Linked DNA regions of Homo sapiens: region 1 is linked to region 2. Evidence: fine-mapped expression QTL. Tissue or cell type: testis. Region 2 holds a variant in brackets; the other region holds the start of a gene. All regions are shown on one strand. Distances are from middle to middle. Region 1 holds the start of PWRN2 (Prader-Willi region non-protein coding RNA 2). Region 2 overlaps LOC105370732 (a long non-coding RNA gene).

The links. PIP is the estimated chance that this variant, and not a neighbour inherited with it, causes the effect.
Region 1: it holds the start of PWRN2, and the variant in region 2 is fine-mapped to the expression of PWRN2 in testis (GTEx, PIP 0.94).

The regions. Positions count from the first base shown.
Region 1 is chr15:24,165,026-24,173,166 of GRCh38, reverse strand. It overlaps PWRN2 (Prader-Willi region non-protein coding RNA 2), which reads left to right and starts at 3,219. Exons shown (of 2, transcript NR_152824.1): 1 at 3,219-3,394; 2 at 4,272-8,141. All of the region lies in intron 2 of LOC105370732 (a long non-coding RNA gene), which reads left to right. It also overlaps a transcript of LOC105370733 not described here.
Region 2 is chr15:24,145,348-24,153,488 of GRCh38, reverse strand. All of the region lies in intron 2 of LOC105370732 (a long non-coding RNA gene), which reads left to right. It also overlaps a transcript of LOC105370733 not described here. Among named protein-coding and RNA genes, the nearest start is that of PWRN2, 21 kb to the left of the region's middle. The variant C/A (reference allele first, on the strand shown) is at 4,270.

The DNA of each region.
Region 1 (8,141 bases), 20 kb before region 2:
ATCCAAGCCCCCTTTCAAGTAACAATATATCACTTAAGATGTGGTGTGAACACCTTACAGTAACAGAATAACCCACATTCTTTCCTTCTATCACCTATTGCAGTTATTCATCTCACTTACATAAGAATAAATGCACATAAATGTTTGTATGTATACATATACACACACAATGATATATATTTAACCATATCTAATCAAATATATTCAAACTAATGTTTTTAACAAGCTGTTATTTGTTAGATTAATTAAGCATAAAATTATTACCTAGACTAGTCACTAAAAAGGTAAAAAAATAGAGATATGCTAAGAAATGAGATGAACTGATATAAAGTGCTCAAAACAACAAAAGGTAGAAAATGAGTGAAATACAAAAATAAGAACAAAGACAAATCAACAACTGAAAAATGGTAACAAATTTGGTAGATTTTTAATCCAACTATATCAATAATCACTTTAAATGTCAATGTTCTAAATGCACTACTTAAAGGACAGAATGCATCAATAAAAGGAAGCATGGGATAGAAAGAATAAATTCATGTAACACGTTACAATCTGAGAAACAAGAGAACATCATGAGGTTTGCAGGAGAATATCAAAGAACATTTAAGAAGTCACACAGACAGGCCGGGCATGGTGGCCAACACCTGTAATCCCGGCACCATGGGAGGCCGAGGAGGGCGGATCGCTTGAGGTTAGGAGTTCGAGACGAACCTGGCCAACTTGGGGAAACCCCATCTCTACTAAAAATACAAAAATTAGCTGGGCATGGTGGCACCTGCCTGTAATCCTGGCTACTCAGGAGGCTGAGGCAGGAAAATCGCTTGAACTCAGGAGGCAAAGGTTTCAGTGAGCTGAGATGGAGTCACTGCACTCCAGCCTGGGCTACGAGAGCAAACCTCCATCCCCAAAATAAAATAAAATAATAAAATAAAATAAAGACTAAAACTACCAGACAGCTTACAGGTAGGGGATTTTAAAGACACAGAGGGGAGGGGTAATACACAGTCATAAATTAATATATTGAGGTTACACATTGGTTTTAGACTAAAAGGATGAAGTATCTTGAAGTGGAAGCTTACAGGTCATAGGGGGATTCAGAGATTTTCTGATGTGTGATTATTTAAGAAAGTAAAATTTGTCAGAAAATTTGGGATCAGCAGAAAGTAATGGTACTTTTGGCTCATAGACGTAACATTCCATAGGCCACTCAGGAAGAAATTGAGAATAAAGAATGGCAGAGTTCATTTCATAGATCCCCTTTATCTGAGGTCTATGTGCCAGTGGATCCATTTAGTAGAGGGGCAGCTTTCTGAACAACAACTCAGGGACATATGCTAAGCTTTGATTTTTAGTTTCCATAGGGAACCCCATATTCCCATGACTCTCCATTCCTTGCTACTGTTTTACCTTCTTGCTTGTCCAGTGGCTCGTGTACTTCTCAGAGGTAGAGAGGTGCCTGGAATTTCTGTGAAGGGACTCAAGATTTTCCTTTATTTCCATGCTTGGGGTGGTACACAGGCCCCTATGAGGGGTCCCTGCACCTTCTCAGGCCCTAAATGAATCCTCATCTGCTTGTGGGACTCCTGAATTTCATCTACCATGTTCTTGCTTTTGTACTGCTTGCCGCTTTCAGGTAGGAAAACTCCTGTTCAACCTTGGCAGACAAATCTCATCTTCACTGGCCAAGACATTTGGATGACTATTCGTATATGAATTATGTCAAGAGTGCCAAAGTTCAGTATAAAATAATGCACATCAGTTGATCCACTATTATTTAATAGAAAGGTGGGTAAATTATTGACTATGTCAATGAAAATGGAGATATAAATAGTTGCCAGCAGAAAAGTATTTTTAAAATGTTAAGCTAAATGAGAAAAAATAATAAAATATTTTAACACCTTTCCTAAAAGTGATTGTTACAGATATATTTGCTGAATAGAGCAAAATTATGTGTACATTTTCTAAGTGGCATTTTAAAAATTTGTCACTGAGACTATTTATTACTGCCTCAATTTCAGAGCCATTCTTGGTCTGTTCAGGGATTCAGTTCCTCTCTGGTTCAGTCTTGGGAGGGTGTATTTGTGCAGGAATTCTTCATTCTTTCTAGATTTTCTAATTTATGTCCATGGAGGTGTTCATAATATTCTCTGATGGTTGTTTATATTTCTGTGGGGTCAGTGGTAATATCACCCTTGTTGTTTCTGATTGCATTTATTTGAATCTTCTCAACATCGCTCATTATTAGAGTAACGCAAATCAAAACCAAAATGAAATACCATCTAACACCAGTCAGAACGTATATATTAAAAAGTCAAAAAATAACAAATAACAAATAATCAAACAAATAACAGAGGCTGGCAAGATTGTGGAGAAAAAGGAACACTTATACAATGTTGGTGGGAGTGTAAATTAGGTTAACCATTGTGGAAGACAGTGTGATGATTCCTAAAAGACCTAATGACAGAACTTCCATTTGACCCAACAATCCCATTTCTAAGTATATATCCAAAGGAATATAAATCATTCTGTTATAAAGACACATGAACACATATGTCCACTGCAGCAATATACACAATAGCAAAAACATGGAATCAATCTAAATTGTCCATCAACGATAGACTGTATAAAGAAAATGTGGCACATATACACCATGGAATACAATGCAGCTATAAGGAACAACCAGATGATGTCCTTTGCAGGGACGTGAATGGAGCTGCAGTCCATTATTCTTAGCAAGCTAACACAGGAATAGAAAACCAAATATCTCCATGTTCTCTTATAAGTGGGAGCTAAATGATAAGAACACATGGACACATAGAGGGGAAGAACACACTCAGAGTTCCTGAAACCATTGGTCTGGTTTCCAATGAGTGGGGCAATCAGACACACAAGCACACCAAGGCTTAACCGCTCTGCTCACTGGAAGGGAAAGAAACTACCCAGGAATGCCACCTGCTTCCAACTAGCTGATCCCATGATTGAGGCTCTAGGGAATTTCTCTTTACCTGCTGAGATATTTCTGTCTTGGGGAACCTCCTTTCTCTTCTTGCCACTGCACCAGCTGCCAACTACACTTCCTTACCACAGGGCAAGTGACATCTGAAGAGGCTGACAGACTTCAGAGCTGGGTAAGGCAACCAGAATACCCCCTGAACTGCCTCTGCCTGTTCTGTGATGTCACCTGACCTCTGCTCTGTTTACATATAGCTGCTTGTGACATCATCTGGGCATGTATGGTATCTGTATCTACGTCAAGACCTGGGCTTTGCTCCACTTGGAGTCAGCTGATTGACAGGAGGGCATCTGAAATTGAGAGGAGATTTCAGGACGTTTACCCAGCCCTTTAGTGGGGATCTGTCCGGGACTGTGCAGTCTGAACCTGCAACTGTAAAAGGTACAATATCTACATTTAGGCCCTCATCTCTGTCTCTCTCTCCTCCTCCTCCTTTCCTCTGCAGGGTGATCTGCATAAGCCCCACTCCATCCAGGATCCGGCCCTGGAGGGAAACAGCCTCCACTGCCCTAGCAGGGTCACTCTTTTTAGGGCCCTGGAGTACTTCTCACAGCTGTGCCAGTTTTTATGGGGAAAGGAAGGATGTGAACAATTCCATAGGTTATCTAAAGGGCTTGCCACCATGCTTATGGTGCTTAATGTTGTTTATGTGAAAAAAAGCTTAACAGCATATGGGATAAGTATTTAGGCAGTCCTGACTCCAACCCCTCTGCCCTTTTTATCTGCCTAATTTACCATTTAATTTGTTGCCATTCGGTTACCATCTACTAGGGTACTAAGGACAGCAGAACATGGACTTGGGATGAAGTTGATGTGCTGGTGGGCCGGGGCAGGGGGTGGAGCGGGGGCAGGGTGGTGGTGGGGGAGTGCTGTGCTAGCTGGTGCTAATCACTAGCCTGCCCAACTAGTTTATTCTCTGGTCTCTTTGGCTGTCCCAGCTGTGTGGTGAGATTTCCACAAGTCTTCCTTTTAGGACCATGAGTGGTATTAATTGCACTGCTTATATGAAGCTAGAAACGTCTTTCCAACCCATAGAGGTCTGGTTGAAGGATATGAGCAGTGCAGAACAGAAGAGAGACAACAAATAAAAGTTGTCATCACTGTTTCACAGGGATGAGCAGTATGGACATAGAAACCACGTCAGGAGGGGAAACAAGGTCTCTATCACCTCTGGGAGGCCCCTGGGGCATACCCTAGCTAACTGTAGAGCCTATAGCTATCAGCCCATGACTAACAGAAAAATGGTCTATTATTGCAGTGCTGTTTGGACTGTGGACAAGTTAGGTTATAAATTTTGACCTCTGAATGGACGCAACCAATATTAGCCTTTAATGCAGTTAGACTCATTTTGTCAGAGGTCTGGAAAATTAGGAAAAACTACCATATGTCCAAGCCTTCATGCTTTTCGAAAATCAGGATTCATACCATGAGGGAAGATGCCAGCTGCTAGCTATACCAAAGGACAGAATGGAAAAAAGGCTCTTCACAAGCCAGAGAGCCAAACTCAGGCAGAAAGCAATGAAGAAGAATTAGGACTTTTAAATGTCCTACACCCAAGCTGTTTTAGCAGCTCCAACCACCACAGCCAGAACGCACCTGGCCTCTGCTCCACCTCAACAGCTCCCACTGCAGTACCACCATACGGGGCCCTTAGCACTGGCCTCTGCGTTGGACCGGATTGCCTTGATGCTACCAAGTGAGGCATCAGACCAATAAGAGGGAGCTACTCTGCCGCCTCAGTATAATGAGAGAACAGAGACGGCCTCTCCCTCCAGTGCTTGACAGGGAACATGATTTAGCAAGGAATTGCCATGGCCGGAGCAAAGGAATTACCGTTTACAGGGATGGCCATGGGTGGCTTGGATGAGAGTGGGCAACCTGTCAGACATTACTGGACATCCAGCCCATTTTCAACATCTAACTTGTGAAATGGAAAAACTCCACCCCACTTTATACAATGGATCCCCAGAAAATGACTGATCTCTATGTGTCTATCTGTGCTACCCACCAGCGTACCTGAGCAGATGTGTAGTCTCTCCTAAATATGTTTCTGACTGCAGACCAAAGAAGGTCCAGAGTCTTGGTGCCTCCATGAAACAAATCCAAATACCCCAAACCTGAAGGGACCATTCTGGATGCAAACCCTAATTGGGGCTCCAATTGATAAGGGGACATGGCCCATCTGGAATATTCACAAACATTCTTCCTGTTTGGACTCAGGAAAGGGGTACCAAAACAGGAAGCCTCACTAGGAATGACCCCTTCCCCGCTCCAGAGACAAAGAAACAGAAGTTTCAACCATAAACGTGGAATGAACAAGGAAGCCTCTGCATCAGAAAAATCGAGGCAAGCCTCTGGAACACAGCCAGTGTGCCTAGTGTAAGGAGAAAGGCCACTGAAAGGATGACTGTCCCAAAAGAAAGGACCAAGGGGCCAGAAAAAGGAGGAATATGATGAGGAAAAAGCTCAAAGTCAAATCATGGAGCAGGGTCACTGCTCTGACCACAGAGAGTGATGCCTGGGGACTCTCCTTAATCACTCAGAGACAATTAAAATTTCCCCACAGGAACCCTGGGTACAACTGACAGTGAGGAAAAAGTTAATTGATTTCCTGGTTGATACTGGGCAAACTATTCAGTTTTAACACTTTATGAGCAAAAAGCACCAAAATGATTGTACCTGTGATAGGAGTTGCAAGAATAATGCAACAAAAGGCTTTCCTACAACCTTTAGAATGCAAACTAGAAAGTTTGGACCTAAGGCACTGCTATTTCTATATGTAAGAATGCCCAATTCCCTTGCTGGGAAAAGACCCATTATGCAAATTAAATACTCAAGTAATTTATCCCCAGAGAAACAACTATGGCTGCAGGTCCTGCTAAAGCAAGCACTGCAACTAAGATGTTACTCACTTGCCTTAAGAAGAAACAAGAATTCTCCCTCAGAAGTCTATGAGAGAGTGCGTAATTGTGAATAGGCAGAAGGAATCCCAGGAAAAACAAGAAATATACAGTGAGTGCATATAGAAAAAATAGAAGGGGCTACTGTGACCTGGGCGGCGGGGAGGAGGCGAATAAAAAAATCAGTATACATTAAGAAAGGAAGCCTTAGAAGGAATACAGCCTGTCTTTCAAAAATTTGAGAAGTGGACTGATTCATCCTTGCAGATCCCCATATAATAGCCCTATCGTGCCTGTAAGGAAGCTACACTTCTACAAATATCAATTTGCCCAAGACCTGAGAACCGTTAATAAAATAGTCTTGGATATTCACCCAGTGGTGCCTAACCCAGATACTCTACTGACTGCTATATATAGACATTATGAATGCTTTTCAGTGCTAGATCTGAAAGATGTTTTCTTCTGCATTCCAATTGAAGAAAAGACCCAACAATTATCATTATTATTTTTAATGACAGGACCGAGAGACTAAAACAACCTTTCAATACTGTTAGACAGTGGGGTCTCAATGTGTTAAAAAATGCACCAACAATTTTTGGGGAAATACTGGCAAAAGACTTAGGAGACCTACAACAAGATTAAGAAGCCTGGCTACAACACATAGATAATTAATAGCCAGCCACAACTATAGGAAATGCTTAGCTGATGTCATTTTAGTTCTAAATCACCTGGTACAATATGGATACAAAGTATTCCCAAGAAGCCCCAAATATGTAAGTAGAAAGTAACCTGTCTTGGCTTTAGGTTAAAGCAAGGCCAAAGGAGCCTGGTCTGGTAAAAAAAAAAAACAAAAAACAGGCAATAGCAGCCATAAAGCTCCAGAGAATGGGGGCAACCATGGGGATTCTTAGAAAGGGTTAGCTTCTGCCAGATTTGATTCCTAAGTTTGGACTAATGACTAAAACACTTTATGAATCCTTAAAGGATTCACTAGACTCAGAGGCCCTTCTCTGGACATCTAAAGGTCAACAAACATTTTATACCATCAAAGAAAAGCTGATATCACCCCCTGCACTGGGATACCAAATTCCCAAAAGCTGTTCAAACTCTATATCCAAGAGAAACAAAGCATAGGTGTGGGTTGTGCTAATGCAAATGCTGGGAGATGCCCCACAATCCATGGCCTATTTCTCTAAACAATTACACCAAAGATTAAGGGATGGCTCCCCTTCCTCTGGGCAAGAGCACCCACTGTGAAGTCCTACAGGAAGTAGAACAATTTACTCTGGGACAGCCAGTTACCTTGTTTGTACCCCATCAGGTGCTGACTCTGCTAGAACAAACGGGAGGCTACTGGCTCACTGTGGGGTGAGTGGGCAGATACCAGGCCATCCTCTTATATGATCCAAATATCACCCTACAAACCACCATGGCTCTAAACCCTGCCACACTGCTCTCAGCCACTGAACACAATCCTGGGTTAAAGCATGACTGTAAATCCTTGATGCAGCTTATTCAAGCATGCTGAACCTGTCAAACTAGACAATGAGTGCTCTGGACTTGAACTACACTGATGGGAGCAGCTTAATGAAAGATGTGCACAGAGCCGGATGTGCCACTGTGACTACCAAAAGGGTAATAGTAGTCCATACCCTTCCTGCAGCTACCTCCGCACAAAGAGCTGAGTTAATTGCTCTTACCTGAGTCTTTAGAACTGTCCCAGGAAATGGGAGTAAAGATTTATTCTGATTCCATATATGCATTCCTGGAAATGCACGCCAATTGGGTGATCTGGAAACATAGAGGAGGTTGCTTGAAATCAGAAAATACAGACATTAAACACCCAAGAGAAATTCTGGACCTAGTAAAGGCAATTGCCTTGCCTGCCCAGGCTTCCATCATGCACTTCCCCAACACCAGAGACATAATTCACAACCGAAGGTAACCAGGCAGCTGGCAAAGCTGCAAAATGAGCTGCTTGGGAGGCACAGGTCCTGGGACATGAATACTCCATTTGGAATTACTAGATTTTAAACCTCATTACACTGAACAAGATCCCAAACGTGCCCAAGCCAGGGGTTTGAGAAAAGAGATTCCAATTCCCCTAGAAAACTGACACCTATAAGATAACGCCTACAGGATGATGAAACCCCAAGGCCTTGGTTTATCCAATCTCAAAACATCTACATAAAGGAATGCACTATGGGAGTGATGTCCTCGCCAACCTA
Region 2 (8,141 bases):
ACATAAACTCTTATAGTTCTCTCACTACAAATATGGCATCTGCAAAGCTCCTAATTAGCAGAGATGATGCTAATGTAGGAAGAATCCATGGACAAGGTGAGACGCACAGTGATTTAGAAGAGTTTTATCCAAATATGAGAAATTTTAGAAAACCTTGATTACCTATTTTGCTTTTACTTTCTATCTCATATGATCATAGGAGTGATAAAACATAAATACACACATTTATATTCAAAAGTGTAAAAAGTAAAGTAGAGATTCCTCTTCAAAGACTTTCCTCCCCATCTCATTAGGAATACATAGTAACTTCTCTTAGAAGCAAAATTTATTCAAAGACCTGTGCTAACATTCTTAAATATCTGCTAGCCGTAATAAAGAAATGAATGTACTTTATGTTCTTAGTTCCCACAATTTAGCCTAAATATTTCCCCTGGCATGCTTATACTGGTCCAAGCAAGCATTAGGTCATAGCCTGTTCCTCTTCCTTATTTGAAGGTGTTTTTACCTTTCTCCAGATTCCAAAAGTTACTTCCTCCTTCCTTTGTTCTCCTCTGCCTTTGCCTCTTTTAAAAAGTTCTAAGTTGCTAGCCAGTTGGGACAAATATAGAATGTGAGGTCCTGTTCCAGCCAATGGAAACCGGACACAGCAGTAGGGTGGAAGCATCAGGTTATAAATGACCCTGTCTCCTTTGTTCGGTGTACTCTCATTGCAAAACTGCTGGCAAGTGTACCCTTTCTGCAGAAAATATAAAAATGGCCTTGCTGAGGAAATGATATTCAAGTGGTATTTCTTTATGGCACCAAGGAACAGGCATTTCAAACAAAAAGTGTTATTTGCAACATATATGAGATAAAATTTTTGTGATGTCATAGTTTTTCAATAGTTTTATGCTTTTATTGTGATGTAAAATAATGATGTATTTTACAGTTGATACATACGATACTTCTTGCAATTACTTGGAAAAAGCTGTCACTAGTAGCAAATATTGACTTAGTGTTTAGTGCAGAACTATGTAAAACAAAAATGACTGACACAGATCTCATTCAATTCAGAGAATTATTTTGCCATGTTTAAGGATAAAGAAACACAAGTCACAGTAGGCTCTGTGGCCTGTGCTTTTTCCAAAGAAGGTTTTGCTGACTTCCATATTTATAGAGGTGAGACCAGGGAGGAGTGGATGGAGGATAAAGAAATGGGGGAAAGACAGCGAGGCAAGTGTTACATCCAAATTAGCACTCACTGCATCCAGAGGTTGCATGTGTAAAGAGGAATGGGGTAAAAGTTAATTGTGCATTTGTCTTGTGCGTGGTAGATCTACATTTTACATAAGATAGGCAAACTTGTGAAATTACAGCTGACTCTTTGGGAACAAAAGGAAGGTAGTATTAGCATGACTCAGTTTCCAACTTTTCCTTTGGCACAGTGAGTTTGGGGTCCCAAAATTTTATTTTCCTTGTTCTTCAAAATATTTCAGAGAAAGCATTTTAGAAGAAAATGAGTGTTTGGTTATATTTTTTCCCTAATCTTTCAACATTAGGATGGTTTATTCCTAGAAAGTTAGGATCTACATTTTTAAGGAGACTCATTCTAGAAGGTTGTGAAGAAATAGGGGGAATAAAAAATAAAGGGAAAAGATAAGAAAAAAGAGACACAGCTGGATTATAGCAACAAAGTAGAAAGCAATCCTTGAAAACTGATAGACTATATTACAGAGCAGTCCATATATAACTAGATAGTCCTGAAATCTTTTATGTAAATAAATAAGATGCTGTTGTTTCTCCCAAAGTTTAAGTTTTCTAGTTTCAGTGTGCAGGGCTTTACACAAAGCACAGTTTTAATTTCTACTAATTCCAAGTCAGAAAAAAATGGGAAAAAAAAATAAAACATTGAAAATGTTAGTTTGGAGACTTGTAACCGGCAAAGAATTTAGGATCCAGTCTAGCTAAATTGTAGGCAAATAATAAAACTGGAAAGCAATGAACAGGGCTAGAATCCAATAAAGGATGTACTATAGTTTCATTTGAAATACATTTTTCTTTCTATAGTCTTCCATTTTTACTAAAGAAAAATCATAGTAAGACCAACTTATTTCCAAAGTAAGTTTTCGTTTTATTGTACTTGGCCTGATTATTTTCACAAAGTGCAGCAAGGATATTTTTTTTTCCATATAGGCTCTTTTAATTTGGCATTGATGGAACTTTTTTTTTAAACAAAGTGTCTAAGATTTGACTTTTCAAAAAGCCCCTCAAGCTCAAACAAGGATTTATTGTGCCTGCAAATAACTTATGAACTGGGTGAATTCCTCTCATCTTGAGGTCGCAAGATTACTTGGAGTTCCTAGGCCTGTCAGAAGGTAACATGCTTTTCTTACCACAGGTTAGAAAATCTGTAGAGAAGGTACAAGGCCAGTCTCTCCAAGGGAATTTTATTGGCTCTATTATTCAACCTAAATTTGTCAAAGCAATCTGCTCATAGATGAAAATATGCTATTCCAGCCAAAGCCTTGGCAAGGTAACTACTGTCTCCAATTGTATCATGATACAAAAAAAAATATCATATCGATCATATGCAAATAACTTATAATACCATAAATTAAGAATATTCAGAAATAATTCTAATATGTCTTAGTATATGTTATCAGTAATAATTATGATTATTACGCTGAATTGTTATGTGTCACAGAAATGACCAGATTTCTTTGTTGACTGTGTCTTTAACAATGGCCTCATTGGACACAGTGACTCATGCCTGTAATGTCCTCACTGGGCACAGTGGCTCATACCTGTAATCCCAGAACTTTAGGAGGCTAAGTTGGGAGGATTGCTTGAGCTCAGGTGTTTGAGATCAGCCTGAGCAAGATAGTGAGAACTTTTCTCTACAAAAAAGTCAAAAAATTAGTTGGATGTGGTAGCACTTGCCTGTGGTCCCAGCTCCTCTGGAGGCTGAAGAAAGAGGATTGCTTGATTCCAGGAAGGTGAGACTACAGTGAGCCATAATTGTGCCACTGCACTCCAGCCTGCGTGGCTTCAGACCCTGTCTCAACAAAATCAAAGTAAAATTAATAAAACAATGGCTGTCCTGAGATTACTGTCACCCACAGATTATTGTGCTCTTTTTTTTTTAAACTATTCAAAATGTGTTTGCTCTTTGAAATGTTCTCTTGAATACAGGTTTCTGATAACTAAAGATTGTGGCATTGAAATAGGAAAAAAACAAAACCAAACAAACAAACTTCCAGGACTGTCAGAGATAGCTGGTATGTTTATGAGGACTGCAGGCCTAATGTCAGACAAAGTTAACTGCATGGACTGAACTAATAGAAGAAATAGAACACCACAATAATCCTTTTATGACTTGTTGCTTGAAATGTTGCTGATCTTTTTTGTTGTTTTTCAGAGTCAAGACAACATTTTTTCTTCTCAGCTATTTACAGCTTTTCATGATTGAGTAAAGTATATTCCTGTGAACAAAAGATGAAGGATATTTCATTTTCTCTACTTGATTTCTCCAGAATTTGAAAACTATTTATTTATGAGTATTCTATACTATGGAGATATAGTTATTGACATAAGTAAAATAAGAATCTGATTTCTTTTGTAAGAGAACACAATTGGAGACACTGATTATTTTACCAAAGATGTGATGATGTTACCAGTGGAATGGCCTACTTTCAGATACAAACAGACAGGCTTGAGGAATTAAAGTTGACTAACAGACATGATAAAAGCCCCTTAAGAAACTGACCTCATAACTGTCTACACAGGCCTTGTACAGGGTTCCTGACCTGTGGTTAGTAAAAAATGTCACATTCTGACAGGCCTATGATTCCTAAATTATCTTGGGAGCTGAAGAAGAGAGAATTTCAAGCAATCTGTACAAGTATTTGCAGGCACAGATACATCCCTTGAAGGCTTTAAAAAAGTCCAATCCGAGATTCCTTAGGGAACAAAGTTCCAGCAAACCCAATTTAGAAAGAGCTAATATGGCAAATAATTATTCTTGCTGAACTTTACGCAAATAATCAGGCTAAGTATAATAATACCAAAACTTATTTTGCAAATAAATGTGTCCTACTATGATATGTCTTTAAAAAATGAGAACTAGAGAGCGAAACATTGTATTTCAGAAAAATACTATAGCACACCTGTTGTTACATTCTAGTCTTGTCTATTGTTTTTAAGCTTTTTATTGTTTTCTGCATTTTGTACTGAATCCTGAAATCTCTCAGAGCTAAAGTGCTCAAACTAACACATTCACATTTTTCTTCC[C/A]CTTTTCTGACCTGGACTCAATGAAATGGCTACGAACTTCTTCCCAAGGCCCTGCAGGCTGAAGCTTATCCCTTGAGATACAGATGCGAAATATGTGAGATTGTCATCACTATCCTCCTTTGCAACTTAAAAATGCTTTGAATCTAACATCTGGATGCATTGTGCCCAATATAAATCTTTGTTATTATTTTCTATTTCCATACAAATGCCTGTTATTAAAAATGTTTTTTGCCTTAATCACATAAGGGGGCCTAGTTCATTTGCAGTGACGCCTCCTGGAATGAAACACTGCTGGGATCTATTCTGAGGACTAGGAAACTAACTAAAAAGATATGAGATGGTATATTTAAATTTGCTCTTTCCTGTTTATCCAAATTTGTCTTTCTAACAACCTCTGACCCATATCTCTCTTGACTATTGACCCCATGTCTGACTGGTTCTTGGCGCTATTCACCCAAATCGCTCAGGGATTTAGATGAATTATATAAGGACTTCTGAAGCTAGGACTTCCACTCCTTATATTAGGACTCATTATCCTATAGTCAGCTGTTCACTTAAGTGCTGTACTAAAACTGTGGATGAGAGCACTAACATCTTGGTCATGCAAGCCTAGGAACCCCAACCAGGCACCTGTGAATACATGCAGGCAGCTGCAAAGCAGTTTCATTCCATTTACTCTGGGCCAAACCCTATCCCAAGTATACCCCTTGTCAGCAGGAAGAAGTTAGAATGGTCTTTGGCCTTTTCCCAACTCTGTACCTCACCCATTAAGAATAAGATGCAATGAAACTTGCAAAGGGAAATTGGAATCACGTTTGCAAAAACAGTAACAGTAAGAAAATTATGATAGGGAGAGAGATATGACCTAAGTGACTTCATCTTGCATTTAACCTCCAAGAGGCCTTTGCTGATTCCTGGGCAAAAACAAACTAACTTCGGGAGAAATTTACTTTGTAGCTTAACTTTGAAACAAAGATAATGACAGCTCCTCCCTGAAACAAAACCCCTCATTGTTTGGGGACCACATCAACTTTGTAAAACTAACAAATTAACCACAATATTAGAAAGTATGGCTCAGGAGTCATACAATCAGAGGCCACAATATTAATAACCTCCCCGATTGCTCCTATAAATAGCATTACTATTGTAAAACCTAAGATTGGTGTTTGAGGTATTTTTCATAACTTGCATTCTGACAGATCAGTGGGTGCCACCTAAACCCATAAACTGGCTCATCTGGATACGTGGCCCACACTCAGGAGCTGAAGTCAGTAAAGAAGATGGCTTTGACTTCCTAAGATTTCATCCCTGACCCAACCAATCAGCATGTCCCTTTCTCTAACCCCTGCCCACAAAACTATCTATAAAAACTCTAGCCTCTGAATATTTGGGGAAGCAGTTTTGAGTAATACGAAAACTGCTCTCTCCTTTAGCTGGCTCTACATGTATAAAATCTTCTCTACAGCAATTCCCCTATCTTGATAAAGTGACTCTATCTGGGCAGCAGCCAACATGAACCCATTGACCATTAACAACCCAACTGCTGAATTTTGTATGAAGATAACTTGTTTTGATTTCATGGGCTGACAGAGGAGACTTTAGATTTGGGAACTTCCTGCTGGTGCTAGAACAATTTAAGCCTTTGAACGATAGGAATTAAATAAACTTTTTGTAAGTGACAGGGCTTTATTTTTAGAGTCAGAAGTGGAGTCCTGTGGTTGGAATATTGCTTCCCTCCAAAATTTATGCTGAAATTTCATCCCTAACATGGCAGTACTGAATTGTGAGACCTTTAAAATGTGACTGGATCATGAAGAGTTTGACCCCATAAATGAATTAATCCTTTCATGGATTAATAAATTAATATTTAAAGATTAATAGTCTACTATGAGAGAAGAGTGGCTTATAAGAAGGGAGACATGATCTTGCATGTCAGCAAGCTCTACTCCATTGCCATACGCTACCCTGTAGGCTTCAGAACTCTTCAGAGAGTTCCAACCAGGAACAGGATCTCGCCACATACAACGTCTCAACCTTGGACTTTTCAGCCTCCATAACTGTATGAAACACATGTGTTTTCTTTATCAACTACCCAGTTTCAGGTATTCTGTTATAAGTAACAGAAAATGGACTAAAACAAAGTCTTAGTATTACTATGCCCTGTTATTAAGTTCAATGGAATATTACAACCATTCCAGACAAGAATACAAATGATCCAGATCTTTCAGGAATGAAGGTTTGCATCACCCTGCCAGGTAAAGACCCAGGACCAGCAGAGGGGCTTGCTGAAGACAAAGAGAATACTGAATGGGTAGCAGTAGAAGGGAGTTACAAATAGCAGACAGGACCAGGTGACCAGTTAAAGAAACAAGGATTAAAATTGTCACTAGTATTTCCTATCTACTTTAAGAATACATTTGCATGTTATATATACATTTATTAGCCAAATAACATTGTTTTTATTTCTCTCTTCTTTTATCACATAACACAAGAATGCATTAACTTGATATTAGCAGTTAAGTGTTAGTAATTTAATATATTTGTATTGAAGTTATGGGGTATCAGAAGAGTAAACATCACCCACAAACTTCTACTACTCTTAAGAAAAATAGTATAGTGTGTTCTGGTTGCACACAGGATCGTTGCATAATGTTAGGTAGAACTATTGCCTTGTTATTGTCTGTATTTGAAGATTAGTTATGGCTTAAGGTGACACATATAGGTGCCAACTAGAAAGGTGCTGGATTTGTCATGGTTAATTTAAGACGCTGACTGGATTACAGAATACCTACAGAATTGGTGAAGCATTACTTCTAGGTGTGTCTGCCAGGGTGTTTCCAGAGGAGATTGGTGTATGACTCAGGGAATTTAGTGGAAAAAAATCCACCCTCAATGGGGGAAGGCAGCATACAATCTCCTTGGGGACCAAATAGAACCAAAAATGAAAAATTTTTAAAAAGTCTTCCTGTCTCTCTCTCCTGAAGAAGGTATACTCCTTTTCCTGCCCTTGGAAAACAGAATTCCATGATCTATGGCCTTGAAACTCCAGAAGTTACACCAGTAAATGCCCTGGATTCTCAGGCCATTGGTCCCAAACTGAGAATTACACCAAGGGCTTCCCTGATTCTGAAGATTTCAGCTTTGGACTGAGCCACCAACGCTACAGCATCCAAGGTCCTTAAACTCACAGATGGCTGTCTCGGGAATGCTCCGTCTCTACAATGTTACATGAGTAAATCCCCAAACAAAATGCCGCTCATTGAACTATTATCTATCTATCAACTCTCCATCTATATATGTATCTATCTACCTACCTATCTACCTCCCTGTCTCTCTGGAAAAAAAAAACAACTGACAAATACACCCATAAAGACTTCAGCCAAATGGTGCAATACTATGTCTGTCTCTAGTTGCTCCTCCACCACCCCTGCTGCTTATGAGTGTATGTCCTGGAGAGCTCTTCTCTTTCCATCTGCACTTCAAGGAATGCTGCCCTCTTCTTACTGGGATTGGTTAGTAATACATGACTCATGCCATTATACACATTTTGTTGAGTTGCCTCCTCTGTATTTCACTTTACGAACACACATGGACATCACTTTTCTCCCACTTAGCACTCTCCTAGAGAGTGGTTACCTTGGTAGAAATAAACTAGACACAGGTCAGACAGGAGCCACAGGGTGTCTTACAGTATAAAGAAGTACTCTGTGAGAGGGATACCTGGATGTAAGCTGGACGGTTGGGCTTTAGGCCATCGACCAGGATAAGTAAGCATCCCATGAAAGGCACAGCCAGTACCAAACCCTGAGTCGTATTGGGCAAGGTTATAGGTTATAGTCACCATCCAGAGAGGCCTTAACAGCAAACAGAAG